Homo sapiens: one gene and its partners. The protein of the gene in region 3 purifies or fractionates together with the protein of the main gene of each other region. This does not show direct contact. Each region holds a gene or a part of one and is shown on either strand. Other genes may lie near its edges. The genes, in order: CTSF, TOP2B, HSD3B2 and MACROH2A1.

Region 1 (3,663 bases), on a different chromosome or scaffold from region 3:
TTGTGGGTGGTGTCCTTTAGACCCCATTTACTGCTTTTGCACCTGGGAAGTCATCACTTCAGTTTGGCCCTAAAAGTTGATCAGACCTCCCACTCCATCACTTGCATGTCTGGCCCCCACCCCTACCTGCTCCCCGGGGAAACCCCTGCCTGCTAGCCCCAATTGCCCTTCCTTTTATCTGCCTGGGGTCGAACCCCTCCTCTTCTGCTCCTTGGTCCTCAGAAGCCCGGTGGCGCCTGTCCGTCTTTGTCAATAACATGGTGCGAGCACAGAAGATCCAGGCCCTGGACCGTGGCACAGCTCAGTATGGAGTCACCAAGTTCAGTGATCTCACAGGTAGGGATAGTGGCCACAGTCCTCATGGATCCAGGAAGAGACAGGACCTTGCTCGCAAGGCCTCTGGTCAGGTCTGGCTTAGAACACTCTTCCTCCCCATGCCCTGCCCACCTTTGCCCGCAGAGGAGGAGTTCCGCACTATCTACCTGAATACTCTCCTGAGGAAAGAGCCTGGCAACAAGATGAAGCAAGCCAAGTCTGTGGGTGACCTCGCCCCACCTGAATGGGACTGGAGGAGTAAGGGGGCTGTCACAAAAGTCAAAGACCAGGTTGGACCCCTGGAAGTGAGGGTGGGACATGGGCACTGCACTGGGGCTGACGAAGGGGCCCGGCTCTGACTCCAACTCCACCCATCTCTTGTAGGGCATGTGTGGCTCCTGCTGGGCCTTCTCAGTCACAGGCAATGTGGAGGGCCAGTGGTTTCTCAACCAGGGGACCCTGCTCTCCCTCTCTGAACAGGGTGAGCATCTCGCTCTACTCCTCTGTCCCCAGCCTAGCCCCTCAGGAGGGCTTCTTGGGACCAGCCTTCTGTCTCCTAGAGCTCTTGGACTGTGACAAGATGGACAAGGCCTGCATGGGCGGCTTGCCCTCCAATGCCTACTCGGCCATAAAGAATTTGGGTATGCATTAATGGGGTCAGGAGGGGCAACCGGAGCCACTTCTCCCTGTACAAGAAGTTACTTCATAATGGGGGGGAGACATGAGCATGAGAGTTACACAGAACTGGGTCCAGGTCTTAATGCTGACCCAGCCAGGCGTGGTGGCTCATGCCTGTAATTCCAACACTTTGGGAGGCCAACTTGGGAAGATCACTTAAGGCCAGAAGTTCAGGACCAGGTTGGGCAACATAGCAAGACCCCATCTCTACAAAAAATTAAAGACATTAGCCAGGCATGGTGGCTTGCATCTGTAGTCTCAGCTACTTGGGGGGCTGAGGCAGGAGGATCGCTTGAGCCCAGGAGGTTGAGGCTGTAGTGAGGCATGTTTGTGCCACTGTACTCCAGCCTGGGTGAAAGACTGCTGGGATGAGCTCTTGGTGAGGAGTCAGAAGTTGGAGTTGAGTTCTGTCTCTGCCACTTTTCTTGCTGGCTACTGGTCCCTCCTCCCCATCTCTCCCAGCCTCAGATGTGTCATTTCTAGAATGAAGACATTCTTCAGAGGGGATGGCCTGTGGCCTGGGGTGGACGAGGAATGTGAAACCTCGCGTAGAGGGCTTAGTTCATTTCTGGCTGTGAATGGCAAATGGGAGCCTGCCCTTCTCTACTCACCCCCACCGTTCCCCAGGAGGGCTGGAGACAGAGGATGACTACAGCTACCAGGGTCACATGCAGTCCTGCAACTTCTCAGCAGAGAAGGCCAAGGTCTACATCAATGACTCCGTGGAGCTGAGCCAGAACGAGCAGAGTGAGTGAGGGGCAGGGTGAGGTGAGGTCAGGTGGGGCCGGGGCCTGGGTGCCTACTGATGCCACCCCTTCCCATCTCAGAGCTGGCAGCCTGGCTGGCCAAGAGAGGCCCAATCTCCGTGGCCATCAATGCCTTTGGCATGCAGGTGAGGCCCTAGCCCCACTGCCCCTGCCCCATCTCTTGTTGACCTCCCCGACCTCTTCTTGGAGTCGATCCCCTACTCCTTCTCCACCTCCAGTTTTACCGCCACGGGATCTCCCGCCCTCTCCGGCCCCTCTGCAGCCCTTGGCTCATTGACCATGCGGTGTTGCTTGTGGGCTACGGCAACCGTGAGTTCCGCTGCCTGTCCTGCATCCAGCCAGGCCACAGGCAGGGGTGGGATCACAGCATCTCAGGTCCTCTAGAGGGGAAATAGGGGGAATGCCTAGGAACCCTGTCCTTACCCACTGCCTGGGCCATGACCAGCTGGGCATCATCTGTCCTCTCTATGGCAGGGAAGCTGAGCTGTGGGAGGGTAAATATTGATGGCCTAATAACCTGCAATAGGCGGGTGGGTGCGTGCTTCCTCCCTGCCCCAGGGCTTCTCCCTGAGGCTGGTAGGTGGGCCCCTCGCTTTCTGCTCTTTTCCTAGTCCCTGTCACACAGTAGGCCCAGTGCAAGTATTTGAAGGGTGCAAAGTGATTAAGGCTCTGCCTGGAGAATTAAGGACCCTGATCCTTGCGCTCTGCACTGCACCCCAGGCTCTGACGTTCCCTTTTGGGCCATCAAGAACAGCTGGGGCACTGACTGGGGTGAGAAGGTGAGTCTTGCTGGCTTGGCCCCTGGCCCTCCAGCCGCCATCCTACCCTGGTGCCCTCACCAGCTCCCCCTCTCCCCCAGGGTTACTACTACTTGCATCGTGGGTCCGGGGCCTGTGGCGTGAACACCATGGCCAGCTCGGCGGTGGTGGACTGAAGAGGGGCCCCCAGCTCGGGACCTGGTGCTGATCAGAGTGGCTGCTGCCCCAGCCTGACATGTGTCCAGGCCCCTCCCCGGGAGGTACAGCTGGCAGAGGGAAAGGCACTGGGTACCTCAGGGTGAGCAGAGGGCACTGGGCTGGGGCACAGCCCCTGCTTCCCTGCACCCCATTCCCACCCTGAAGTTCTGCACCTGCACCTTTGTTGAATTGTGGTAGCTTAGGAGGATGTCGGGGTGAAGGGTGGTATCTTGGCAGTTGAAGCTGGGGCAAGAACTCTGGGCTTGGGTAATGAGCAGGAAGAAAATTTTCTGATCTTAAGCCCAGCTCTGTTCTGCCCCCGCTTTCCTCTGTTTGATACTATAAATTTTCTGGTTCCCTTGGATTTAGGGATAGTGTCCCTCTCCATGTCCAGGAAACTTGTAACCACCCTTTTCTAACAGCAATAAAGAGGTGTCCTTGTCCCGAGTGTGGTATAAATGCTCAGTCCCCGGGGGTGAGGAGAGATGGCAGGGACTCCTGGCGGGTCAAGGTGGGATAGCTGGTCCTGCCCAGGAGCCTGAGGGGCCAGCTTCTGCTTCAGGAACTAAAAGGAGATGGGGAGAGACCCAGAGAGGGATCTTTATTCAGAAGCACTTGGCTGGCTTTTCTCTTAGGCCCTTGCTCCGAGGGACGGATGGGATCAGCCACAGGGTGCATCCTCTCTCCATCTTGCATAGAGAACCTCAGTGGTTGGGGTCAAAGGTCGCTCTCCCCATAGAGGGCACTGGAGAAGGCCACGTAGTCCAGGGCTCCAGCCGGGGCCCCGGATCCCTTGTAGGGCACCATACGGCGGATGCAGTACTCGGCCTGCTTGGCAGGGAGCTCGCGCCGCAGCTCCTCGGGGGTGATGTAGTTCTGGGGAGAAGAGGCGTTGAGGACCCACAGGTCCCGTGCCCTGCCCTAGCCCACCAGCCCCTCCACCGCCT
Region 2 (8,517 bases), on a different chromosome or scaffold from region 3:
GTTTTTTTTTTTTTTTTTTTGGTAAGGGAGATAGATCTGGGTTGATTTCCCAGTGACTACTGTTTCTGTCTCCCAGCTAGCACCATGGGAGTGCAGAGGGGAAACCTCTAGATTCTCACTGGTCTTCCCTGTGAGAATTTGGTGGGTTTTCTGAAAGAAAAACCTGCAAGAGTATGAATGAATGAACTTATGACTATAGTCCCTAGAAGCTTTATGCATTCAAACTAGTATACACTCTTCCAGTAGCAATTAGTCAAAATTTCTAGTTTAAAGTTCCTACTAGCTTATTAAATATCTGCCCCAGGTAAGCAAAAGCTTAGGTTTTGTGGTCTCCTACAGACACTTATGTCTCTCCAGACTTCAGGATGGCCAGCTCTCCTGTGATCTCAGTTCTTCAGTGGGTTCATGAAAAACCCATTAATTTGTTGTCTGATCACCCGTTTTCTTACAAGGATGGAAGCTTTTTTTCCTGCTAGTTCATTATCTGTCTGAACTGAAACTGGAAGTCTACCTTATCATTTTAAAAATAGAAATTTCTGAAATATTTTATAACAATTTACCTGTCCCTTCACATCCTCTTTTTGTCAAGTACACATAGAAATGAATTTCTTTTTTAAAGGTCAAGGGTTAAGGAATAGATCTGGGAAATGCCACTAAGGTTTGGATCGGTGCACTTAGAACTGTTGTAAGTGAGAGGAAATGAAAGTATACGTACTGAAGGTGATTCACCTATTTGAGCTGCCAGTGTAAGATTTTTAATTGTTTTTGTTTTTTAAATTAATAGGTAAATGGATTTCGCAGTTATGTAGATCTTTATGTGAAAGACAAATTGGATGAAACTGGGGTGGCCCTGAAAGTTATTCATGAGCTTGCAAATGAAAGATGGGATGTTTGTCTCACATTGAGTGAAAAAGGATTCCAGCAAATCAGCTTTGTAAATAGTATTGCAACTACAAAAGTAAGTAAGCAAATTATTTGTTTCCAAGTCAGTGGTAGAACAGTACTTCAATAAAAACTACAAAACAAATAACAATATCCACAACCCCCAAAAAACCCAAATCTGTTTTTGTTAAATAAGAATTGACTTATGAAAACAAAAACCTATTTTCTATGAAATTGCTGTATTAAAATTTATTTAAACAATTATTGAGAAATAAATTTATATGACTAGTGTTTGTAGTTGAACATATTTATATTTTATGAAATTTAGAATAACAAATTCCTTTTTCTGTAACTTTTAGCCCCACCTTCCCCAACCTCTGGGGAGAGGAGAGGGGGCTGGTGACTGAGTTAAAAATCAATTATGGCTATGTGATAAAGCTCTGTAAAAACTCCTGAACAATGGAGTTCACAGAACTCCTAGGTTGGTGAATACATTTGAGGTGCCAAGAGGGTGGCATGTCTGGGTAAGGCATGGAGCTTTGTGTACCCTTTCCCCTGTACTATGCCCTATGCATCTCTTCCATTTGGCTATTATTGCTGGATCCTATATAAAAAACTTGTAAATGAAGTAAAGTGTGTTCTTGAGTTCTGTGACCTGTTCCAGCAAATTATCATTCCTGAGGAGTGGGTCATAGGTTCGTTAGAAGTACAGGAGGCCTAGGACTTGTAACTGGCATCTGAAGTGTGGGGAGTCCTGTGGGATTGAGCCCTTAACCAACCCTAAATACTTGTGCTAACTCCAGGTAGTTAGTATCAAAATTGAATTACATTGTTGAACATCCATTTGGTGTCTGGAGAATCAGAGAATTGGTTGCTGGTGTTGAAAGCACCTGAGAATTGGTGTTAGAATTGAAGTGAGGAAAGCAAACAAACAAACAAACAAAAAAAACACAGCGGTTGGTTTATTGGCTCTGTAGCCAAAATGTCTTATTTTTTTAAAATCTCAACTCTCGTTCTGAGACTCTATTACTCTTTTAGAAAATAGGGTTTATAATACAGATAAAGTATTTTGCTACTTTAACAATACAGGATTTCAGATTTCATATATTTTTTTTTCTTTAGGGTGGACGGCACGTGGATTATGTGGTAGATCAAGTTGTTGGTAAACTGATTGAAGTAGTTAAGAAAAAGAACAAAGCTGGTGTATCAGTGAAACCATTTCAAGTAAGGGATGTGTTATATATTGTACATGATGCATACATATGCATTATATATATACTGAATTACTAAATATCAGCTCTGATATTGACTTTTTTGGGTATGTTTTCAACAGGTAAAAAACCATATATGGGTTTTTATTAATTGCCTTATTGAAAATCCAACTTTTGATTCTCAGACTAAGGAAAACATGACTCTGCAGCCCAAAAGTTTTGGGTCTAAATGCCAGCTGTCAGAAAAATTTTTTAAAGCAGTGAGTAAAACTTGTATTTTTTTTATTGTTGTTATTAAGAGTTGATTAGGTAGTTTTCTTGATTTACTTTATTTGTGATTAGTTTCTTTCATCGTATTAACTGTGGGTATAAGCATGCTTGCACTACAAACTAATATGCTTAATTTGATAACTTTAAAGGGTAGACTTTAATGTTTCCTAAAACAATTGTTTTGCCAAGAACTAAAGTAGGGAATTATGTAACTAATTGCATTTTTAGCTTTGTATTGACCATTGTAAAGGTCAGATTTCCCCTAACAGATGTCCAGATCCTTATGCAACTCTTTCATCTTTTCTACTCTCATTTCAACTTGATCTACTGATTCTTATCTTTATACATGTTTAAAAATTGTGGTAACATGTATAACAAAATGTACTATTTTCTACATGTTCTTAAATTGCTTTGCTTTGCACATAATTTTTTTAGGCTACCTTAACTTCTCTAAAATAAGGTGAGAGCACAAATAAATAATGGAGATGAATCAATCACAGCCTCTCCTCTTTGGAATTTTGGTGGGGAAATGCTCTATAACTGCCCTAGAACTAATGTATTTCTCAAATTCCAAAAAGTAGATTATCAGAAACAAAAACAAAAGTTGTTTTTTAGGTTCTAACTTAAGGCCTGTAGAAATAGTACTTTTGGATCTAATCTTAATGAATTCTGAGTACAAATTATGCTATATTAATGCTTTCCCAAATTTCTGTCCTCATAACAATTGTTTCCTTGATGAAGTGATTTGATTTTAAATTTTATACTTTTTCATTTTAGGTGCACTAAGTTTAAATTTGACAACACAGTTCACCTCTTTTGTTTATGTCTTAAACATTCCAGAAAACTGTTTTATACACCTAACATCAAATCACCGAGGATGATAAAAAAACTTTTAGGACTTAGAGTTGGAGATGCTTAACTTTCTTTTCCTTTTTCTGTCTGGGTTAACATCTTGCCACAGATTGATTCACTGCAGAGTACAAACAATATGTAATGTTGAAATCTTTATTACCAAGCTATTTAAAGAATAAAAGTCTATTCATAAGTTACCAAGGTTATCCTAATGTTCCTTTTAGGTTAATACTTTTTGTCATAGTGAATTAAAGACTCACGTTTTGTATTGAAGGATATCAGAAATGTCAACGTCTGGAATTTGCCGGCTAGTAGGTTCATGTGTGGATCTGTTTTCACTGTGTTAATTTTAATAAAATTAATTTGTAACAAGAGCAATGCATATTCCTCATGGAGTTTATTATAATAGAATGTTTCTCATATGTAAAAGTTATCCTTTTTCATGTATTTATATTTTAGCTTTAATTTTACAGTAGTTGAGTAAAAGCTGATTAGCATGTATCATGATGCTTATCACCATTATTGTTTTGCCCTAAAATACCTTAAAATTGCACAGATTCCAGGTCTTGCATTAGGCCCTATACATTTTAGCTAAATGTATGAATTTTCAGCTTGTTTGTATACCATTATTCTTTTATTTTTAGGCCTCTAATTGTGGCATTGTAGAAAGTATCCTGAACTGGGTGAAATTTAAGGCTCAGACTCAGCTGAATAAGAAGTGTTCATCAGTAAAATACAGTAAAATCAAAGGTATTCCCAAACTGGATGATGCTAATGATGCTGGTAAGATTGATATTTTTAAATAAGATTTTGATTTAAGTTTCACTTTTATTTAGTTACAGAATTTTTTTATTTTCTACATATAGTTAGACTATGATTTTCCATTCAGAGTATGATTTTACTTCATTGAAATTATCACATACACAACATATTACTAATTTTCAGGGGATAGGAATTTAATAAAATATACTTAATATTTATACTGAGCAATAATGTAAAATAACTTTTATAGTCTTTCACTGTCAGCATTCTAATGTTAATTTTCTGACTTCATTTTTCTCATCAGTGAAAGTATGAGAAATTTTTACTATGTATAATTTTAAATTTCTCTCAGGTGGTAAACATTCCCTGGAGTGTACACTGATATTAACAGAGGGAGACTCTGCCAAATCACTGGCTGTGTCTGGATTAGGTGTGATTGGACGAGACAGATACGGAGTTTTTCCACTCAGGGGCAAAATTCTTAATGTACGGGAAGCTTCTCATAAACAGGTATGTATGTGTGTGTATATATATGTGTATACACACATGCACACATACATATGACATTTCTAATACTTTACTAAACTTCTCGAATTTTTAAATGTAATTTCTGACTCGTATATTTCAACACTTCAAACTACTCTCAGTGCTTTTCCTTTTTGAACAGATCATGGAAAATGCTGAAATAAATAATATTATTAAAATAGTTGGTCTACAATATAAGAAAAGTTACGATGATGCAGAATCTCTGAAAACCTTACGCTATGGAAAGATTATGATTATGACCGATCAGGTTGGTTTTAAAGTTACCACATATTTCAAATTCATGTCTTCTTCAGATTCTCCCTTTAATATTTGTTTTATGAGACTTGCCCGAAGATGGTATAACTGAAAGTGATTATACATCAGGAGGAAAAAATGAAAAAACCACGTCATTTAGTGGAAACATTTTTATGAAGCACATTTTACATTGTCTGATTTTTGGGGTAACTAAGGAGAATATAATACAGTGTGGTACTATAGCAGCCTACCTACAAGTAGGAACAAAATTATGGAATTAACAAGTAAGAAAGATTAATGATAAGGGTTAATATTTATACATGATGGCATGATTTGGAATGCACAAATACCAGGACTTAAATAGTAAAATGATGGTAATCGAGAAAGAACTAGAAAATTGAAAAGGAAGAATTTCAGATGCATTCAACTGTTTTCTCTTATGCACTCTAAAGTATTTGTAGAGAAAATCTGCAACTGAAAAAACTGCTATTAATATATAGTTTTAAGCAGAAATTTTCCAATTTTTTATCTAGGGAAGACTTGTGAATATCTGTATTACCTGGGTTTCCCTACCATTGCCCATTAAGGTGGCATTATAACCATGTTTTATTTTATGTATTTTCTATCCTTAAATCATTCTTTTAGTGAAATCTGGGGAAACTATAAAACAGATAAAATGATAATATATTTTTATAATGACAGATTCAGTCTATTACTACTATATTCTTTATTTGTGTATTAAAAAATTTAGTATGATCATCTTAATAGCTTTTGTAAAATGCATTTCTAAAATTCAGAATTTTGGTTTTTTGCATTCACGTTTTAAAATTTGTTTATATAAGTAATCATTTTATAAAAGTATTACAACATTTTTTACTTTACTAACATTTATTTAGGATCAAGATGGTTCTCACATAAAAGGCCTGCTTATTAATTTCATCCATCACAATTGGCCATCACTTTTGAAGCATGGTTTTCTTGAAGAGTTCATTACTCCTATTGTAAAGGTACTCTTTGCATTAATATATTTTTATATTGTTGTCTTAAAGGGTAGCAGAAAAACTAATTTTGTTTTTTAATTAATTTAAGGCAAGCAAAAATAAGCAGGAACTTTCCTTCTACAGTATTCCTGAATTTGACGAATGGAAAAAACATATAGAAAACCAGAAAGCCTGGAAAATAAAGTACTATAAAGGTTTGTATTTTAAAATACTTAGATTTTAAATACTGATATAAATGTATTCTTATGAAAGCAATCTAAAAGATGACTTGAAAGTTTGACTATTTTAGACTTCGAAAATAGCTATCACTGATTTTAAAGTATTGTTATAGAAAAATGTATGCAAGTAGAATAGTGTAATAGATTTCATTGAATGGGATCACCATTTCAATGGCTAGTCTTGTTTCCTGTAAACCTCCTTTATTGCCACTCCATTAGTTTGAAAAAACTTCCAGACATTATAGTCTAGTATTTCACCTATAACTACTTCAGTATGTATTTCTGAAAGAATTTTTTTAAGTAACCCATAATACCATTATCATAACCTTCTTTAATATCCTATTGTTGAGACAGGGTCTTGCTTTGTCACCCAGGCTGGAGTGCAGTAGCATGAACACAGCTCACTGCCGCCTTGACTTTCCGGGCTCAAATGATCCTCTTGCCTCAGCCCCCGCAAGTAGCTGGGACTACAGGTGTGTGCCACCACACCCAGCTAATTTTTGTATTTTTGTAGAGATGGGGTTTTGGTTTGTTGCCCAGGCTGGTCTTGGACTCCTGAGTTCAAGCCATCCACCCACCTTGGCCTCCCAAAGTATTGGGATTACAGGTGTGAGCCACCATGCCTGGCTCCCTTTTTTTTTTTTTTTTTTTAAATAATGTTAAATACCCAGCCAGTGTTAAAATTCCCCTGGACTGTATTAAAATTGTTTATTTTTAGAGTTTTTTATTTTTATTTTTATTTCGTTTTTTTTTAATTGTTTTTATTTTTTTGAGATAGAGTCTTGCTCTGTTGCCCAGGCTGGAGTGCAGTGGTGGGATCTCGGCTCTCTTCCTCATGTGTTCAAGTGATTCTCATGCTTCAGCCACCCAAGTAGCTGAGATTACAGGCATGTGCCACTATGCCTGGCTATTTGTAGTATGGGTGGGGTTTTGCTGTGTTGGCCAGGGTGGTCTAGAAGTCCCGGCCTTAAGTGATCCGCCCACCTCAGCCTCCCAAAGTGCTGGGATTACAGGCATGAGCCACCATGCTTGGCCTGAGTTTGTTTGTTTTTTTCCAAAGTCAGGATCCAAGTAAGGTCCACACATTGCATTTGGTTGATAAGTTTATTAATATAGCATTTCTCTTTTTATATTTTTTCCTTGTAATTTATTTGTTAAAGAAGTTGGGTTGTTTGTTCTGTGTAATATTCCACATTCTGGATTTTGTTAATTATATTCCTCTAGTTACATTTAATATATAGTATTTTCCTTTGCCCTTATTTTCTGTTAACTGATGGTTAAATCAGAGGCGTGATCAGATTTGGGTTACATTTGTTTGGCAAAAACATTTCATAGGTAGCGTTGTGTGCTTTCATCAGGAAGCATCTAATGTCTACTTTGTCTTTAGTTGCTTATTAAGATTGATCACTTAGTATAGGTGTTGCCAGCTTGATCCATCTATTACAACTTTTCCACCAGCTTTTTACTTGATGGTTTTAAACAGACATTGATATTCATGACTCACTTTTATTTTTAAAATTGTGCAGGATTGGGTACTAGTACAGCTAAAGAAGCAAAGGAATATTTTGCTGATATGGAAAGGCATCGCATCTTGTTTAGATATGCTGGTCCTGAAGATGATGCTGCCATTACCTTGGTAATTAAGTTAATTTTTTAAAAGCTTTTGTTAGCCATCCCCCTACCTTCTATTCCTTTCCTCCCAGTCCTGGTTCCCTATGATAAGTCTCTTTTGAATGCTCAAGCTAGTTAATTTTAATTTTTCCCCCAGATGATGCTGTGCTTGTATAAACTTCTTTAATTGAAAGACCTTAGTTTAAATGTGTTTTTGATTAAAATATTGTAAAATAACCTAATTTTCCAGAAATTAAGAATTAGTTATTGGCCACTTATACATTTTAATTTTGTAATAAAATTTATTTTATTTTTAATGTGCAAAATCGTTACCTGGAATCTTTCAGGCATTTAGTAAGAAGAAGATTGATGACAGAAAAGAATGGTTAACAAATTTTATGGAAGACCGGAGACAGCGTAGGCTACATGGCTTACCAGAGGTTAGTCTTAAAGAGTGGTGACCTGGGGAAAGAAGGAGAGAGAGACTAGAATTCATGCAGTAATAATGATAATATTGCTATATAACTTTTCTCTTAGCAATTTTTATATGGTACTGCAACAAAGCATTTGACTTATAATGATTTCATCAACAAGGAATTGATTCTCTTCTCAAACTCAGACAATGAAAGATCTATACCATCTCTTGTTGATGGTGAGTAATATTTAAAAACCTCATTTTTTAATGTTATTTACTATAGTTTAATTTCATGTACTTTAAGCCATCCTTATGATACATATTAAAATTCTTACTTTAAATCTTGTATATGAAGAGCTTATTCAGAGGAATTTAAGGCCTTTTTGATTTTGCTTTTGTTTTATGTTTTCATAGTGCTGAAATCTTTAATATTCCTTAATTTGAAACTTTTAAACCTTTTCCGAGTTTTTCAGGAAAATTAACTTTAAAAGTCTTAAAGCTTTTGCCCAAGTTGT
Region 3 (8,352 bases):
CTTAGGATGTTGCCAAAACCAATGGTCAATTCTCTTCCTATTGTATTTGATGCACCAGCAGCATCCATCATAGTGGACCACGCTCCTCTTGAAACACTTTCTCCAGTTGACTTTTACAATGCCATCCCCTCCTAATTTTCCTCCTGCCACCAACTTCTACTCAGTATCTTTAGCTGGCCCCTCCTCCTCTTTTCAACCTCTAAATGTTGATATATCTATTCCAGGATTCAGTCTGGAAACTTTTCCTTTTATCCATGAATATTATTACCCTAGCTTATTTCATCTAGTCCTGTGCCTTTAAAAATTATTATATGCTTCTCACATACAAATTGACCTCTCTAGGACTAGCACAGGGGGTGTAATTATCCTAAAGTAACCCAGAATTTTAATAAGCTGGCCAAGAAGAGGGATTTTCCTTTTTCCAGCATGAGGGACTGTGCCTAATATAGCTCCCTGTAGAATGGGTGTCTTCTCCCCTAAGAAAAGGGAAACTCTTTGCATGAGTCCCAAGGACTCTAGGTGCTGGGTAGTTGATTTTCGCAGACAATCTTGTGAATAGCTGGCACCTAAATCCAGACTGTTTCACGCCAACAGCCTGTATTCCTCCCTTGAGGATCCTGTGTCCTTGTGCTTACATCATAAAAAGTTATAATAAGGGATGTAAGCCTGTGTCCTTGTGCTTACATCATAAAAAGTTATAATAAGGGAGATTAGTGTTCCTACACTGGAATGAATACTCACATTGTTAGCCCAGCAATTTCCTAACAATTTATGCATCAGCATAAGATAGGAGGATGGGGAAATCATGCTGCCTATTCTTTTGCTGATCAGTAATCTTTGTGAGTTTTCCTAATACAGCATATTATTTAACCCGTGATCATCATATTGAGAAATTCTTTACAAACTCTGATGCCAATAGGTGGTAACTCAGATGAGTATCACTTTACACAGCATGCTGACCTTCTCTGAGCATGTGGAGGACAATTTCATTGTCTCAGGATTGCATGTATGAAAGACTATCATTTTTTCCATTGAATTTGCTTTTGTCAAAATCAATTGGTCGTACGAATTTAGGCCATTAACTCACACATAAGCAAAAATTCTCTCAACATGGATTATAGGCCTAAATGTAAGGGCTAAACTATACACTTCTTGAAGAAATCAGAGATTAATACATACATGACACTGGATTAGGCAAAAGCCCAAATTTTCCTGGTAGAAGGAAAAAAGTCGAAAAATGAGACATGATCAAAACTAAAAATGTTTACATGTTAAAAGACATCAATAAGAAAATGAAAAGATAAGCCACAGACTGGAGGAAAAAAATTTAAATCATATATTTGATAAAGGACTCATATCCAGAATGTAAAATGCACTCACAACTAAACAACAAAAAGAAAAATAACCCAATTTTAAAATGAGCAAGATATTTGAATAATCATTTCACCAAAAAGGTGTAGGAATGGCCAATAAAGTACAGAAAAGATGGTGAGCATCATCAGTCAGCAGGGAAATACAAATCAAAACTACAATGTGACACCACTTCTTACCCACTAGAATGCTATACTAAAAATAAAACAATAACAATTGGAGGAAGTGAAAGCACAATGATGTGGGAAAATTGAAATACTCATGCATTGTTGATGGGACAGGCAGCCATGTTCAAAAACATTTTGGCTGTTCCTTAAAACATTAAAGATGCACTTACCATATGACCTAGCAGTTTTACTCCTGTCAACCCTAAAGAAATAAAAATGTATGTCTACACAATACATGAATGTGAATATTCATAGCAGCTTTATCCATAATGCACTTTGGGAGGCCAAGGTGGGCAGATCATGAGGTCAAGAGATCGAGACCATCCTGGCCAACATGGTGAGACCTTGTCTCTCCTAAAAATACAAAAATTAGCTGGGCATGGTGGCGTGCACCTGTAGTCCCAGCTACTCGGGAGGCTGAGGCAGGAGAATCGCTTGAACCCAGGAGGCGGAGGTTGCAGTGAGCCGGGATTATGCTACTGCACTCCAGCCTGGTGACAGAGTGACACTCCATCTCAAAAAAAAAAAAAAAAAAGGGGGGGAAACACATAAATATCTATCAACTGATAAATGAATAAACTAATGGCAGCCATCCATACAATTTAATAGAATTTGCCACCTAAAAGGAATGAAATATTGATACATGCTACAACATAGATGAAACACATAAGTATATTAAGCTATGTGAAAGAAGGCAGATGCAAAAGACCACATATTACATGATTCTAGTTATATGGTGTCCAGAAAATCAAATCTGTGGAGTCAGGAAGTCATGAGGGCTGCCTAGAGCTGGGGGCTGGGAATAAGAGGTGGCAAATGATAAGCATGAGGGATTTCTTAGGAAAGATAGAAATGTTCCAAAACAGGATTGTGATGATGGTTACACAAGTCTAAAATTTTACTAAAAATAATTGAACTGTACACTTAAAATGGGAATGTTATAATATGTCAATTATACTTCAGTAAAGCTGTTTAAAAACAGAAAGTTGGTAGTGTGGCCCCCAGCAGCCTTGCTCTTTGTCCTACTGCTCACTTTCCTAAAGAAAGCAAAATATTTATTGGTTTAAAGAAAGCTTACAGTTATTGCTTCCACTCAGACTCCAAGAGACACTGCCTGAACTCTAAGAGCCTCCAGAACTCTCAACAGCTGAAGGAACATTTGGTCCCACCCTGAAGGTCATGGGGGTCTGTAAGGTGCACTCCAGCATCTGATATGGCAGGCAAAGGTGTGTGATGCACCTGGGTGGTTTCAGATAGTGCTCCACAAGTCCCAGGGCCCGTGTCTAGTTCTGAGAGCTTCAGAAGACAAGCTGCTACACCTTGCATCACAGGACCAACCTTTCCTAGGCAAGTGGGTTTGAAGCATTGGCAGCCAGGTTCCAAGTAGAAGGTGAATGTCTACACACAGGAGAAAGGCAAGACCCAGAATGGGGAGTCAAGCTAAATCATTTGTAGAGTATGACTTCCAACAACTTCAGAAAGCATTCTTTTGAAGTGCTTATGGCATTTCCACCAACATAGACCATAGGCTGGACCATAAAACAAATCTCAATATATATCAAAGAATCAAAATCATACAGAGTATATGCTCTGGCCACAATAATATTTAATTAGAAATACATAACAATAAGAAAATCCCCAGTTTTAGAAAACATGCAACATGCTTCTCAATAACACTTGGGTCAAAGAAGACATCACAAGAAAAAATTCAAAACGTCAGTAACTGAATAATGATAACCCAATGCATCAAAATGTTGGATACAGCTAACATAGTGTTTAGAGAGAAATTTACAACTTTAAATGCCTATGGTGGAAATGAGCAAAGAAGTAAAGTCAATTATCTATGCTTTTATCATAAGAACCCTGAAAAAGAAGAGTAAAATAAACCCAAAGTTAATAAACATTTAAGCCAATAATAAAAATAATGAAAATCATGAAATAGAAAAATGAACAAACAATAGAGACAATCAGTGGTCAATTTTTCTGTACTCCATGAACAAAACTTCAGTTCAGAATGATTTTATATTTAAATATATATCCAGAATCACAAAGATCTTAGAAGAAAAAATTAGGAAAATATAGGAATAAAGTGGGAACTCTGTGGGAATAAAAATCAGAAAGTAATTGCCTACCAGGTAAACTCGGGGGAGGGCAGGCAATTGACTAAGAACAGGCAGATAAAACTTTCTGGAGTGAAGGAAATGGTGGTCTTCTTTTCGTTGGTACTTACATGGACATATATAACTGTCAAGGTTCATTGACAATGAACACTTAAGTGTACACTGAACGCTTAAGATCTGGGCCTTGTAATGCCCAGATTACATCTACTTAAAAAAACTACATCTCTATTTTTTTAAGTAGAGAAAAGTGTCTTGGGGAGTTTATGGCAGTGATGTTTGGGCAGACTGGGGCATAGGTTTCAGAAGCATTCATAGCATCTTCAGTTCAACAATTTGCTAAGAATGGTTTTGCAGCCAAAAATGTAAGATGAGTGCAAATATCTATGATTAGAGTCATTGGGCATACAACTACAAATCCCCACACTTGTATTACAGGCCATATGATTAATTCGTTATCACTAGATACCTTTCCTTCAATGAGGTTCTTCCATTAGGAACCCAGAGCTCTCCAGGGAAAAATTGCAATTGAGGTTTTGGATATATTGGGTGGAAAAGAAAGTCACCTCACATAAAACTTAGTGATTGGAGCTGTCACCATTGAAAATTTCTAAACTTTGCAAGACAGCAGTGACGTTTCAAATGACACTCTCAGAGAGTTGATAATGGGCTAAAATAGATCTCCCTCCAGGTGGATTTACTGTACAAGGACAACATTTACATTGCACTTGGAGACTTCTCCCAGTTTGGTTTAAGTTCACAGATTGCAGATCCCAGACAGCTGGTATCAACTGACCAGTGTTCTGTTAAGGCTAAAGCCAAGACTCTTTATCACACTGTGGCCTTAAGATTGGATTTCTCTTCCTGTTCCTGGGAAGAATTAGAGATATAACCTAAAGGTCACTATTATTCTGAGAAAAGGGATTCTGGAGGAGGAGGGAGCAATGAGTATGTGGCAGGAGTTCAAGGTAATAAGGGCTGAGACACAAGCCACAGAGCATAAAGCTCCAGTCCTTCCTCCAGGGATGAGGCAGTAAGGACTTGGACTCCTCTGTCCAGCTTTTAACAATCTAAGTTACGGTTAGAGCTTTCTCCTTTTCTTTCAACTACTCCTGGCAGTTGTGGGGTCATGGAATTTTTGTAAAAAATGGGGTGGAGGAAAATAAGGCATCTGCTGAGTGTATAACCATTTTACCTCTTGTTTTTAGCCCTCTTCTGGGTCACGCTAGAATCAGATCTGCTCTCCAGCATCTTCTGTTTCCTGGCAAGTGTTTCCTGCTACTTTGGATTGGCCACGATGGGCTGGAGCTGCCTTGTGACAGGAGCAGGAGGGCTTCTGGGTCAGAGGATCGTCCGCCTGTTGGTGGAAGAGAAGGAACTGAAGGAGATCAGGGCCTTGGACAAGGCCTTCAGACCAGAATTGAGAGAGGAATTTTCTAGTAAGTAAACTTGAGTCATGGGTCTGTGGCTCCATCTTAAACTCTGCATGGGTGTGGGGAGGTTGACCTTGTCTAGCAAGTTAAGGAAAGTTGTAGCCAAATGAAAGCCAGTCACACATCTAAAGTCATCAGAAAGGAAATAGAATAAAATGGTATAGTGTGAAAGATACTGGATGGGGTGTCCAGAGACTGGATTCTGGCCCTGACGCAGAACTTGAGAGGCAGCCATGTCAGCCTCAAGGCCCCTTTTCTTCTCTTCTAGAGAGTCACACATGAGTTCTCCTTCTTGTCTACAACTCTTATGTTCTGAAGCTTTTTGTCTTGGCGATTGCTGTGCGACATTCACAAAGGACATCATTTACCTGGAGACCTCACCAGTGGGTCCTGCCTGTCTAGACTGCCCCAGGCTTCATTTCATTTTATAGCTTCCTTAGTATCTTTAGTGAGGGCAAAATAAAAGGAAGTGAAGGTACGGATGTGTGTGTAATTGTGTGTGTGTGTCAGACAGAGAAAGAAAATGAGGGGGAAAGAAGGTCAGAGACAGAGAATGAGAAAGACAGAGAATGAATGAGAAAGATAGTGTGAGGGAGAGCATCAGCAAGAGAGAGAGAGTGAAAGTGAGAGAGATCATCAGTGAGAGAGAGAGAAAGAGAGAAAGAGAGCATGCACAAGTGCACGGCACAGAGCAGAGACAGAGTAAAAGGCAGTATGAGGCCAACATGCCTCATTTATATTTCTCATATATAGCCTTTTTAAAAAAAAACCATTTGTATCTGTTGTTCAATACTCCAAATAAATTGACTGCAGAATTTGCTGTAGTAACTCTTTGTGCAAATAACCCTGTGAGGAAGGTAGAAAAGGGGTCACCTCCAACTGGACAATGAACCCATCAAGTTCCAGAAACATAAAGTTACTTGCCAAGAACAGCTGATTAATGTGTAGCAGAGCTCAGACCAGAGCTTCATTCCAGAAGCTTCATCACTTGACCCCCGGGCTAATCCTTGGTGGGTCTTCAGTCTCTCCCTTTGCCTCTCTGTGTGCCCCAAACCAATTCCATGTTTTCCTCCCAACCCAGGGGACTGGGGGAACTATGTATCTTCTTCATGCAGGTTCTGGCTGCCTAGAAGGTCCTGCCCTGTTCACACAGAAGCTCCCCTTGACACTCTCCTCTTCTTTCACTCTTCTCTGACCTCTTTAAATGTCCAATTTCCTCCACTCTCTGTTCTAATAGTGAACAGATATTAACACATGACTGATATTAAATGTTTGTAATCCTTATGTCTCAGCAATATTTACAATCTAACATCTGATACCAGGAAAAAGCAATGCTCAGTCTAGAGGAAGAGTTCTGCTATGGTGAAAATGCAGGGAGCATAATGGATGGGCAGGGCCTGTATGAAGATAAAAACAGAGAATCCTTTCAGTGTTCTTTCTGTGCCAGGCACTGTGCTAAAGGTTTTGCATGTGCTGACTCATTTACTTCCCATAACAACCCTATGAGATGGGTAATACTATTATCCTCCTTTTTTATAGATGAGGAGACAGACACAGAGAGGTTAATCAACTTGTCGAAGGTCCCAAGTTAGATTACGGCAAAGCTGGATTTGAATCCAGGCAGTCTAGTGCAGCTTCTGTGCTCTTAAGTAGTAGTTTGTCTAGCAGCTTCTCTGAGCCTCCCTCCAGCCCAACACACAACACAAAAGCAACTGAATTTAGTCTACATGAAACACTTGCCAAGTCCACAGTGCCTTGGAGAAGGAGGGAGCTAAGACTCCATCAAAAATTGCGCTTTTCTGGTCTCTCTAGATCCATGGAAACTCACCGGGGAAGAGTCATTTTCTATCGGCTTTGGACTTCTGCTATGAAATGGCAATTCCTTTGAGCCAGTCTGTCTAAAGTCGGCAGCAAAGGAGAAGCAGATGAAGGGAGTAGAAAAGGTAGAGGTGGAAATACAACCAGAGAAAATTCCACTCTCGGGCTGACACCCACCTCCTCCCCAGCAGCCTCTTCCCTGCCTCCACCATTCCAGGGCCTTCTTGGAGTTGCCTGACAGTGGGAAGGGGCTGGGAGTAGACAAAACAAGGCAGAGGCATCAGAAGAGCAAATGGTCCCACCTGTATCCCAGGAAGGAATTTCTCCAGCCTTGAATTTTTCATTCTGAATTTCGCTCTCACTGTTCTTTGGCCTTTGTGGGCATTTTCAGTTAAACTGGCTTATTCTTACTCTTTCTCAGAAAAGTTGATTCTAAACAGCTATTCCTGCACCTGGGGTACAGGGTACAAAAATGGCAGGTGGAATGGGCAGGTTTGAGCCTTCACTAGAAAATTGACTTTAGATCTGTCCCTTAACCTCTCTGAGCCTCAGTTTCCTCACCAATAAAGTGGGACTCAGAATACCTACCTCACGAGATAGCTGTAAAAGGAAATAAGCAAGCTGTGAGCCGTATGCAGATTATAAAGCACAAATGAGTGTAGAGTATTTATCTGAGCTCCATGTAGCATGGTGTTCATTTTGTGGGCTAATTCCAGGTGACAACTTTACCGGCAGCGTCACTACCTGTGGATTTCAGAGGAGCCTGAAGATATGGATGTTACATCCGCTGCCCTTGGCTAGACATTAGACAGCTGAGATGTTAGTTCATTGGTGGCTAACTCATTTTCAGCATTGCTATCTGCTTTTTATGATATCTGATAAAAGTTTCTCAATGAAATTAATCATTTAAGCCCATCTGCAATTCCTGAGTAATGGCTCCACTCTCCTCCCAGTTGCCCAAGCAGGAAACTGTAAGGGTGATTTTGTCTCCTTTTCCTCTCATCCCAGCTCCAGTAGGTACCAGGACCTTCAAGGTGAGGTCTGAAATTCAAACCTGGAGTGCATCTCTCCCCTCCTCTGCTTCCACTGCTGGACCCTGGTTCCAGTCCTCATCTAAACTTTGGCACAGACATTCTGATTAATCTCTTGATCACCTGGCTTTCTCATTTCCCCTATACCAGTCTGTTTTATATCCTCAAGCCAAGGTAAACTTCCTACGCCACAACTCTGCGTCTGTTTATCTTTTATTATTATTACTATTATTATTATTATTATTATTATTATTATTATTATTTTGAGACAGGGTCTTTCTCTGCCACTGAGGCTAGCATGCAGTGGCATGATCTCAATTCACTGCAACCTCCACCTCCCAGACTCCATCCTTCCTCCTGCTTCAGGTTTGTGATTAGCTGGGACTATAGGCACATACCATCACGCCCAGCTAAT
Region 4 (8,517 bases), on a different chromosome or scaffold from region 3:
TGTGGGCTGCTCTTAGGCCTTTACCATTTTTTAGTAATTGCCAGGTTGAAGTTGCCCCAGCCACAGGCCACTTTGATCCAAGTCATCAGGATCCTGAGCCGAGAGCAATGGTATACAGGAGGGAGAACATTCAGAAGCGATGGTGATGGGGCCACCACTCCCCTGAGCTGTGCCCCCTGCAGCTAGAGAGGGGATGGGGCAGCCCCAAAGTGGCCTCCCACTCCAGGCCCCCGGGCTTTGGGTAAATGAAAAATTCTCCCCCATTCAAAGGTCTCTTGAGTTTCTGTCCTTTTATCTCACCTCTGAGGCCAATGCTTAGGAGGGGAAAGAGGCTGATGGCTATACTTGGGCAGGTCAGGGAGTTCCCAGGTAGTGTTTTATGCACAGAGAGTACGCAGGCAGGGGGCAGTCCTATGGTGGGATGAGGTGGTGGGACCTGGGGTCTGGCTGACCAATGGAGATGGGAGGCAGGGGTTCCATGAGCCTAACAGCTCTGAAGCGAAGGGCTTCTGATCAAATTCTCACTCTACCAAGTACAAGTTGAGTGACCTCAGATGATTTACTTAACCCCTCTATGCTTCAGTTTCTTTGCCCTTGAAAGGAATAATGCTGTTCACCTTGTAGGGTTGCTGTGAGATAATGCAGATAAAGGGTTTAGCACCGCGCCTGGGGCTCAACACATACCCATAAATAGTAGCTTGAAAAAAATAAACCAGCTTTTCCTTTTAAGCTTATAAATCTAAGGAAAGTTTAATCAAAGCCCCAAACTAGTATTCCCTATGTACTACCCCTCTGGAGAGGGGTCACCCCTAATGTGAAACAGAGCTGAGGGAGTGGGGGTATCCATAAATATCGTGACCAGAATGGCTGAGGACAGGATGTCCAGATGCCAGGGCCTCACAGGCTGGAGGGAGCCATCACACAGGTGTGGTTATGGTCATCTTCCATCCATGTAGGCTGTGCCACTGGGCCTCAGCTAAGAGAGTGATCCTTTACCAATGGCTCTTTCCCAACATGCTTACCTTTATACTGTTTTAATTCCAACATTACTTCCGTGCCAGAGACACTGGATGCAACAAACAAGCTGTTTTATTTCCCCTCCTAAAACCCACTGTGATTTACTGGCCGGCTCTGGTGTAATCCCATTTTTTTTTACTCATGAAAGAGAGGGCAGCTGTTTACACAGCTCTATGGGGTGAGGTCTGCCTGGCAGATGTGGCCTGGGTAGCTGTACACATGTGCTGCCTTAGGCATTTCCCCCTCTTCAAGCTTTCAATTGATTATTTTTATTCCTACTTTTTACTCCATGAAAAATGTAAATAAGTTTGTAATAACAGATGCTCTTTTATGAGAATTACTTTTATGCTTCAATTAAAAATTTCCCAATACCCATATGAAAGGTTGTGAAATTATTACCTCCAATAAAGTTTCCTATTGCCTCCCTCTGCGGAAGCACCTTTCATCAGAGCAGATCAAAGTGCATTGAAAGCACTAATTAACTGAGCCTCAGAACCATTTGTGAGGATGGGCAGTCCCTATAGCCTCACTTGCTGATAAGGCAGACCAGGGCAGAGAGGCTGATTCATTTAACCAAAGGTCACACAGGATAGGAGAGCTGAGGGGCCTCACTCACAGAACCCCAGGACCAGACAGCCCAGAGATGTGAGGCCAGGGAAGGGGGAGGCAAGCCTGCCCATAGCTCAACAACTGGTGAGGGGTTGCTGGGGAAATGCTCATTCTGCTGTTTTGCCCTTGACTGGGAGAAGTGGGGGTGGCGGCGGGTGGCGGGCAGTGATACAGGCTCCAGAGAAGGTTCAGGTGCAACCAGAGATCTTTCCCCAGAGCCTGGTACTGGTGGGTCCTGCCAGTCACACATGGCCTTGGCCATAGAAAGCCCTGGGGAACGGTGGCAGTGCCCATCTGCCTGTGGACAAGGCCTTTTACTAGGCAGAATGTCAAGTGACAGGAAGCCCACTCTGTACTAGTTCTGCCACCAGTACTTGAGGTGTGGGACCTCAGTGATGGCAGCATGCAGGAGGCAAAATCACGAGGCCTGCCTAAGCGGAAAATGGCAAAATCTACTCTCTATCCTCTAGAAAGTTTGGAAGGAAAGTGCTTTGCAGAGAGCAGCTGTCAGTTCAGGACATGGTTCTGAGGACTGTTGCTCAGGCTCGCCCAGAAGGGACAGCCTGCAGTGTCATAGGCAGTTGATGCTGCACAGCCCTGCCTTCCTTGGGTGCTGGGAGGGGCTGATGGGCAGAGACCCCAGAAGGCTCACAAGCTGGGATGGGAAGCCCCAGGAGCAGTGGCAGGTACTCTGTCCAAAGCAAGCCACCTGCCAATACAGAACCCCAGGTTATGGCTCCTCTTGGGCGCAAGTTGTTAACAGCTACAGCCTCTAAAGGCCAGTTTCTCTTTGCTTCAGTGCCCAATGCAGACCTCGAGCCTTCCAGAGGCCTTGGACTCTTGGACTTAGACCCTTGGTAGGGAGGACCCTAGCAATGGGCAGTGGGACACAATCTCAGAGGTGGCTCTGCCCTGACAGGTCCTCATGTCTGCATCATGGGACACACTTCTGAAAGCACTCTGCCTTCTAAGAGCTCCTTTAATTTCTAGAGCAACCCTGAGATACTGCATGGGGGGATTATTATGCCAACTTCTCAGAATGGGGGTTAATTTACATGTCATCACTCACCGGGTTAGTGGCCAAGCCAGGATGCAACTCCAGGCCTGACCCCTAAGCCAGAGTGCAGTGCTGCTCCAACAGGCAGGAACCTGATAGGTTATTTGCTGACATGTGTGGGGTGTACAACCAGGTAGGTATTGTGGGGGTTGCCCTGAGCCCTACCTGCATCATCAGCTGTCGAAAAACTAGACTTCTCCTGTGGTGGTCCTCCGGGTATGTGTATGTCTTAGGGGCAACTGTGTTGGTCGTGAAGACCTTGGTGAGTCTACCTGGGGATTTTCTGGGACAGGAAGTGGAGTAGGGCCCAGCCCTGTTTCAATCTCACGTAATTCCCCATTCCGTTCCACCAGGTCCCATTACCTCATTAGCAGGCCAGCAGGGTTACCCTAGGGCAGTAAGACAGGGAGTCAGGTAGAGATGCAGGTTCTCAGGAGGTGAAATATACTTGTGAGTAGAAAGGAAAGGGGCAGAGGGCTTTATCCAAAGAATACTGTGGTTTGGGGGACAGACCATAACACAGCTATAGCCTTATTCTGAGACAGCCAAGCTGTTCGTTTGTATCCCTGTATTCACGCCTCCAGATCTTCTCCACCCAAGTCACTGTGCCCCTCAAAACTTACTCTCTGAGGTACCATTTCTGTGGTCCCAGTACACACTGGGTTCCCCTTCTGTGATGACATTTGCTATCAAAACTTAAGTTTTATATCATCCTTGGGATTTGGGTCTCTCTAATTGTCCCTCACCATCATTTAATGTCTGCATTCTTCCCTGTGTTGTGCTTCTGGTCTCCTTGGTTAAGGCAGCCTCCGTGGGCCTTGCACAGAGTGAGAGCACCACAATTATGGGCCATGTGTGCGCAGAGAGACACACCCATGACCGATACGTAACAAGCATGTGCCCCTACCTGCCGCTGCCGATGGATGGAAATGCAATGGATTTCAGCTTCTTATCATCAGCCAGGGCCAAGCAGTTTTTCACTGTCTTTTCCAGAAGTTCTTCACACTTGTCTGCACCCCAAACTGGACTATTACAGTGGATCACAAACTTGGCAGGCAGGCCATGGCCTGCGCTGACAGCAGCTAGTGGTGCGGGGATGAAACAGAAACAGTGAGCTCTGGTTCACTGCAAAGCACAAGATGCCAAACACAGACCCACTCCCCTGCCACGGTATATCTTCCTGGGCCCTCCAATGCCCTGTGTCCGAGGAGTTCCACAGCTGTCTGCTGCGTTGTGATTCCAACGTGAGCTGGAGCCAAGCCACACCCTTGGAAAGTTGGCATTATGATGTGTCACCACCAGGAATTTTGACCAAGTTCGTAGTAAGCCTCTCTCCACTCTCAGAAAGCATACACGGTTCTCCCAGAGGCAGAGCCTTATCCATCAAAACTCAACTGAACGCAAACTCAACGTGTCAGAACATTTGCAGCCTCAAAATAATTGTTTTGGGTTTCCAACCCTTCTTCTTCAAGTCGACTGGTGTGCTAATTATCGACTTGCACACCAATATGATGTATTTGTCTCTACTATGATGTATTCTCTAAATCTCCCAAACCCAATTCAGGACAAAGCTACTAGGAAAGCAACTGCTTTAAATGATCTGCTAAGCAACCTGACCAGCATCTCCACTCTGCCATTGTCTTCTCCCTGCTGAGGATGGCCTCACTGTGTGAATAACGGATCCTGTTTATTTGTGGCAGAATTAGATTAGTTTTTAAGGAACTGTGTTTTTCTTTTCCTAGAAGAGGGGCCCCTTTCTAGCTATACATCTCCACCAAAGACTTGCCTTTCCCTTGCCAGATCTAAGGACACAGGCCTGGGGTCTGCCACAAACTGCAAAGTACCATGTCTCCCAGAGCATGTTCCAGAACCCCTGTCCACAGATGCTCTGCAAAGAAGGTTTCCAGGGCACTGGGTTTAGCTGCATGCTACGCTTCTATACAAGAGCACACCAGAGTCTCCACACCACTGCTAAAGTAAAACATCCAAACTTTTTGTATTTGGTTGGCTATTTCTGAAACTTTTTTTTTTTTTAAGGAATATCTGTCCAAGGGGTATGGTTTGTTATGGTCGTGTCATAGATACTGGAGAAGGAGCGATTTGTGGGTAGTGTCTCATGGTACAGTGGAAACAGCTCAGTCACAGGGTGTGAATTTGAGTCCTGGCTCTGCTTTGTGACTGGGCTTGAGAACTCTGGGCTGACCTATAAAAACCTGACATTGGGGGTTGAATTAAACCAGTGGGTTTGTCCCCATGAGAAGTCATGGCTAAACTATGCATAGAAAACGACTGGAAAGAAACATTAACAGTGACTATCTTTGCACAGTGGAACAGGAGTATGTTTTATTCACCTCTTTATACTTTCAAAAATATTTTAAAGCAGTTTCTAAAATAGCCCTTAAAATCAAGAACAAAAGTGTTATTGAAACAAGCAAAAATATCTTGAACCATGCTATACCTAATGGGTTTGCATCTGCTGTGGCTGAGGTTTCCCCAGCAGAGTTTGGTACATGGCAGCACCAGGCTGCCTACCAGGCCTTGTGCCAAGGGCTACCAGCAGGACTCAAGCTGGAACCCCGATGGGAAAGGACCCACAGGCTGGTCAAACAGGTGTTTTAAAGGGCCTGGGGAAAGGCCAGCTGCCCCTGGCTAGGTAGTTAAAACTGTGTATGCCTTCCCTTGTACAATGTGGGACTTTGGTGGAACTGCCTGGGAGAACTTCATAATTACTACCCTGTATGTCATGCCCCTTGCAGGTAAAACAGAAGTGGCAGAGCAGAGGTCAAAGGCACAGATCAGCAAAGGGAATCCTACTGGATCCTGAGACTAGCCTGGAAGGGGTGTCATTTGTCACTGGGAATAGAGGTGCACGGCCTGGTGGACCCTCCGAGAGAGCTTAAGATTCATTTTTAAAACAGAGGATTTAAAAGACACAATAGGCATTGGAATCGGGTAGTAAGAAGAGAAAACCAGAGCCCCAAGTGAGGAAGTGGGTGATCTGTCCTCACACAGTTGGTGGGGGAGCTGGGCCTCCCCACTGACTGGACTCTCAGGTCCTTAGGAGGTGCTCTGTCCTGCACACCCCAAATGACCACCTAAATTCAGGCCTGAAGCAGTAAGAAGTACCCTGCCTCCAGGTCTTAGCAATAATTCTCCCCACATCAGATGCCAAGTCGTTTTCTTCCCCTTATACCAGGGAAGGTGTAATTGGCAAATGAGAAATGTGTATTTATATGTTTCCTCTTACACACACAGATGGCTGAAGATTTTTAATTTGTATCTCTCACCAGCAGTTTTGCAGATGGCTCAGTATCACTCACTCTCAGCTCTTAGATGTACCAAACTCAGCTCCTATAATTTCTTAAAATTTGTGATCTAGACATCAAACATATAGGAGCTATTTTAAGTAATAAAAAAAAATGCAAAGGTGATTTTCCCAGACAACCTGCATGTGGTGAAACTCTAAGATGTAAAGCTACAGGCTGTCCTTGGCCTCCATCTTGAAGATGCGGCTGTGCTGCCACACACCTCTGAATTCTAAGCCCTCTCACAAAATGGCTTTCCTAATACTGCATGTGTCACAACCAGATAAGCACGGTGGCTTTCCCACCTCACCTCCAGCTACTTCCAAGGGCCCGTTCTTTTTCCGGAGTTCCAGGACAGCTTCCACAAACTCCTTGCCACCTTTCTTCTCCAGCGTGTTTCCTAGACAAGGACAGGGTGGGGTCAGGTTGCCATTCTGTGTCTCCGGCACACACAGACACTTAGCATGTCAGGTGATTACATACTTCAAATGATCTATTAAATTTCCATCAGGCTGCAAAACAGGAACTAAGCCTTGGCTAAGTTAATAAAGTAAAATTGAGAAGGGCTTTGTCATCACCAGTTACTACCCTCAAATTGCTGCTTCATCTGGCTGTCTCTGCTGCCCCTTATTTGGGTCTGACTCAGGGTGATCATGGATGTGCCAGAGATGTGAAAGAGACAGGACATGCTTGTTTTTTGCAAACATGCTTGTCCTGGATGCTTTTCATTGGCATGAGATACTAGCTGGTACTGGTTTCCAAGACTAATGCCTGCCTTAGGTTTTCTTCTCTGTCTCTGGGGAGAACCCCCAAGTAAGGAGGTTTCAGCAGCATACAATGCTCCCATCAATAAGCCAGCTCTCCTCCTGGCAGCAGGCCTAGAAGGAAGTGTTCATACCTGGCCACCTTTGGACCAGCATTATTACCATGCTTAGTTCCTGTTTTGCAGCTTTGGTGTCATATGCAAATACAAAATAAAAATGGCCTCAGACGGTATTTTCTTAATTACACTAATGATTCAGAATTGTTTTCAGTAAAGAAGGGCAACATCAGAAGCAGAGCTTAAAGATTAATCTGTGTTCTATAAAAAGCTTGGAAAGGAGGATGTCTAACTGCTCAGGACCAGATTTTTCACAAAAGCCAATGGAGATTGGGAGCAATGTGTTTTCTTCAATTAGGGCACTTGCTAAGTAATCAGTTCCTGCTGTGAAAACCAAGTTCCCAAACAAGATCACCAACACCTATGAGAACTCTGGGTTGATGCTCATGTGGGATAGCAAGTGGCAATCAAAGTTAGCAACAAGATCAGCCTTTCAAGTTTGGCCAGAATGGGGTCTGAGTCTTCCTTAAGCTCTGATTCCTCAGTTTTGCACATTTTAAAGTACTTTTCCTCACAAGAGGACAAAATACTCCCCTTAAGATTCACATCTGTCTTGGAAAATTCCAGGTGCACCTGGCACAATTCTGGTATGGGACGGTCAAGGTGCATCGGAATGCACCAGCCCAAATTCTCTTTGGAGTCACCCTGCGATGACCAGGGTTAATTATCTTAGTGAAACTTGCCTCCTTTGAATGTTTGTTCTGCAGGGGTGAACTAACCCCGGGAGGTGTCTGGGAAGAAGAGTAAATAGCTTGGGCTTTGTCCCAAATAAGAACCAGGGCTAATGGCTAGGACTGGGCCTGTACCCACCCGCTGTAGGAAACCTGGGGTGTGCAGATGAACATGACCAGCAGCCATAGCCCAGGGGAGCTCTCAGCTGTGTCCGAGAGAGGGTGGCACAAACTTAGCATCCTTGAGGTGGGATTTTGTGTTACCCTTCATGATCTCAGACTGCCCTCCTGCCTCTACCTGTCCTGGAAAGCAGCACAGGCTTTAAATGGCAGAGTGAGAATGTCACACCTGTTGCTGCTGCATGTTTCTAGTAAAGTCAGCATCAGAGGTGGCAGCTGAATGGGGCATGCACTGGAGGAAGCAGGCCGGGGGCTTAGAGCCCAACTCCACCACTACAAAGTGGATGCAACCCAGGCGAGTGAGACCCCAATACAGGTTCACCTAAACTATCCCTGCAGCTGAGAAAAAGGAATCTGGAGCCGGAACCAGCTGGATTCCACACACTGCTGCCCCTGGGGCCCAGTCTAGCCTTCTGTCTTAAACCCATTCTCCAGCTTGAGGCAGGGCAACAAAAATGCTGGAGGCTGGACTAGTTAGCATTCTCAGTCTTTATCAGATTAACTCTTTGGTGAGAACTGAGAAATTTGAAAGGTAAAATAATGTTTTTACTTTATCATGATTACCAACTCCTTTCTAAAATATTTAAGAAAATGGGCTGATCTATAATTAAAGGTGTTTTATCTTAGGAAGAGTGTTTAAAATTTTTACTTATAAATATTGCTTTAAGTAAAAGTGAAATTTCCAAGTTAAAATACACTTAAATGCATTTCCCAAACTTAAAAACTGAACCCTAGATTGCAGGCAATCAACCCAGTCAGGACTTGACTCCTACACACACATATGTATGCACATGTTCA

The links.
Region 1: the proteins of HSD3B2 (region 3) and CTSF purify together in Homo sapiens (affinity purification with mass spectrometry; 2 studies listed by BioGRID and IntAct, with this or other methods). This does not show direct contact.
Region 2: the proteins of HSD3B2 (region 3) and TOP2B purify together in Homo sapiens (affinity purification with mass spectrometry; 2 studies listed by BioGRID and IntAct, with this or other methods). This does not show direct contact.
Region 4: the proteins of HSD3B2 (region 3) and MACROH2A1 purify together in Homo sapiens (affinity purification with mass spectrometry; 2 studies listed by BioGRID and IntAct, with this or other methods). This does not show direct contact.

The regions. Positions count from the first base shown.
Region 1 is NC_000011.10:66,562,964-66,566,626, reverse strand, and holds the end of CTSF (cathepsin F precursor), read left to right. Parts: intron 1-222; coding exon 223-336; intron 337-459; coding exon 460-605; intron 606-699; coding exon 700-796; intron 797-875; coding exon 876-956; intron 957-1,620; coding exon 1,621-1,740; intron 1,741-1,820; coding exon 1,821-1,885; intron 1,886-1,978; coding exon 1,979-2,069; intron 2,070-2,480; coding exon 2,481-2,539; intron 2,540-2,619; coding exon 2,620-2,694; 3' UTR 2,695-3,163; downstream 3,164-3,663. Other genes in the region: ACTN3 (alpha-actinin-3), read right to left, coding at 3,434-3,592. UniProt on the Homo sapiens protein: Thiol protease which is believed to participate in intracellular degradation and turnover of proteins. Has also been implicated in tumor invasion and metastasis.
Region 2 is NC_000003.12:25,626,282-25,634,798, reverse strand, and holds part of TOP2B (DNA topoisomerase 2-beta), read left to right. Parts: intron 1-784; coding exon 785-958; intron 959-2,004; coding exon 2,005-2,106; intron 2,107-2,215; coding exon 2,216-2,353; intron 2,354-3,859; coding exon 3,860-3,998; intron 3,999-4,329; coding exon 4,330-4,487; intron 4,488-4,644; coding exon 4,645-4,770; intron 4,771-5,653; coding exon 5,654-5,764; intron 5,765-5,846; coding exon 5,847-5,952; intron 5,953-7,502; coding exon 7,503-7,612; intron 7,613-7,934; coding exon 7,935-8,027; intron 8,028-8,124; coding exon 8,125-8,239; intron 8,240-8,517. UniProt on the Homo sapiens protein: Key decatenating enzyme that alters DNA topology by binding to two double-stranded DNA molecules, generating a double-stranded break in one of the strands, passing the intact strand through the broken strand, and religating the broken strand.
Region 3 is NC_000001.11:119,410,468-119,418,819, forward strand, and holds the start of HSD3B2 (3 beta-hydroxysteroid dehydrogenase/Delta 5-->4-isomerase type 2), read left to right. Parts: upstream 1-4,682; 5' UTR 4,683-4,735; intron 4,736-4,863; 5' UTR 4,864-4,952; coding exon 4,953-5,094; intron 5,095-8,352. UniProt on the Homo sapiens protein: 3-beta-HSD is a bifunctional enzyme, that catalyzes the oxidative conversion of Delta(5)-ene-3-beta-hydroxy steroid, and the oxidative conversion of ketosteroids.
Region 4 is NC_000005.10:135,339,670-135,348,186, forward strand, and holds part of MACROH2A1 (core histone macro-H2A.1), read right to left. Parts: intron 6,389-8,517; coding exon 6,299-6,388; intron 5,012-6,298; exon of another isoform or gene 3,766-5,011; coding exon 3,591-3,765; exon of another isoform or gene 3,486-3,590; intron 1-3,485. UniProt on the Homo sapiens protein: Variant histone H2A which replaces conventional H2A in a subset of nucleosomes where it represses transcription. Nucleosomes wrap and compact DNA into chromatin, limiting DNA accessibility to the cellular machineries which require DNA as a template.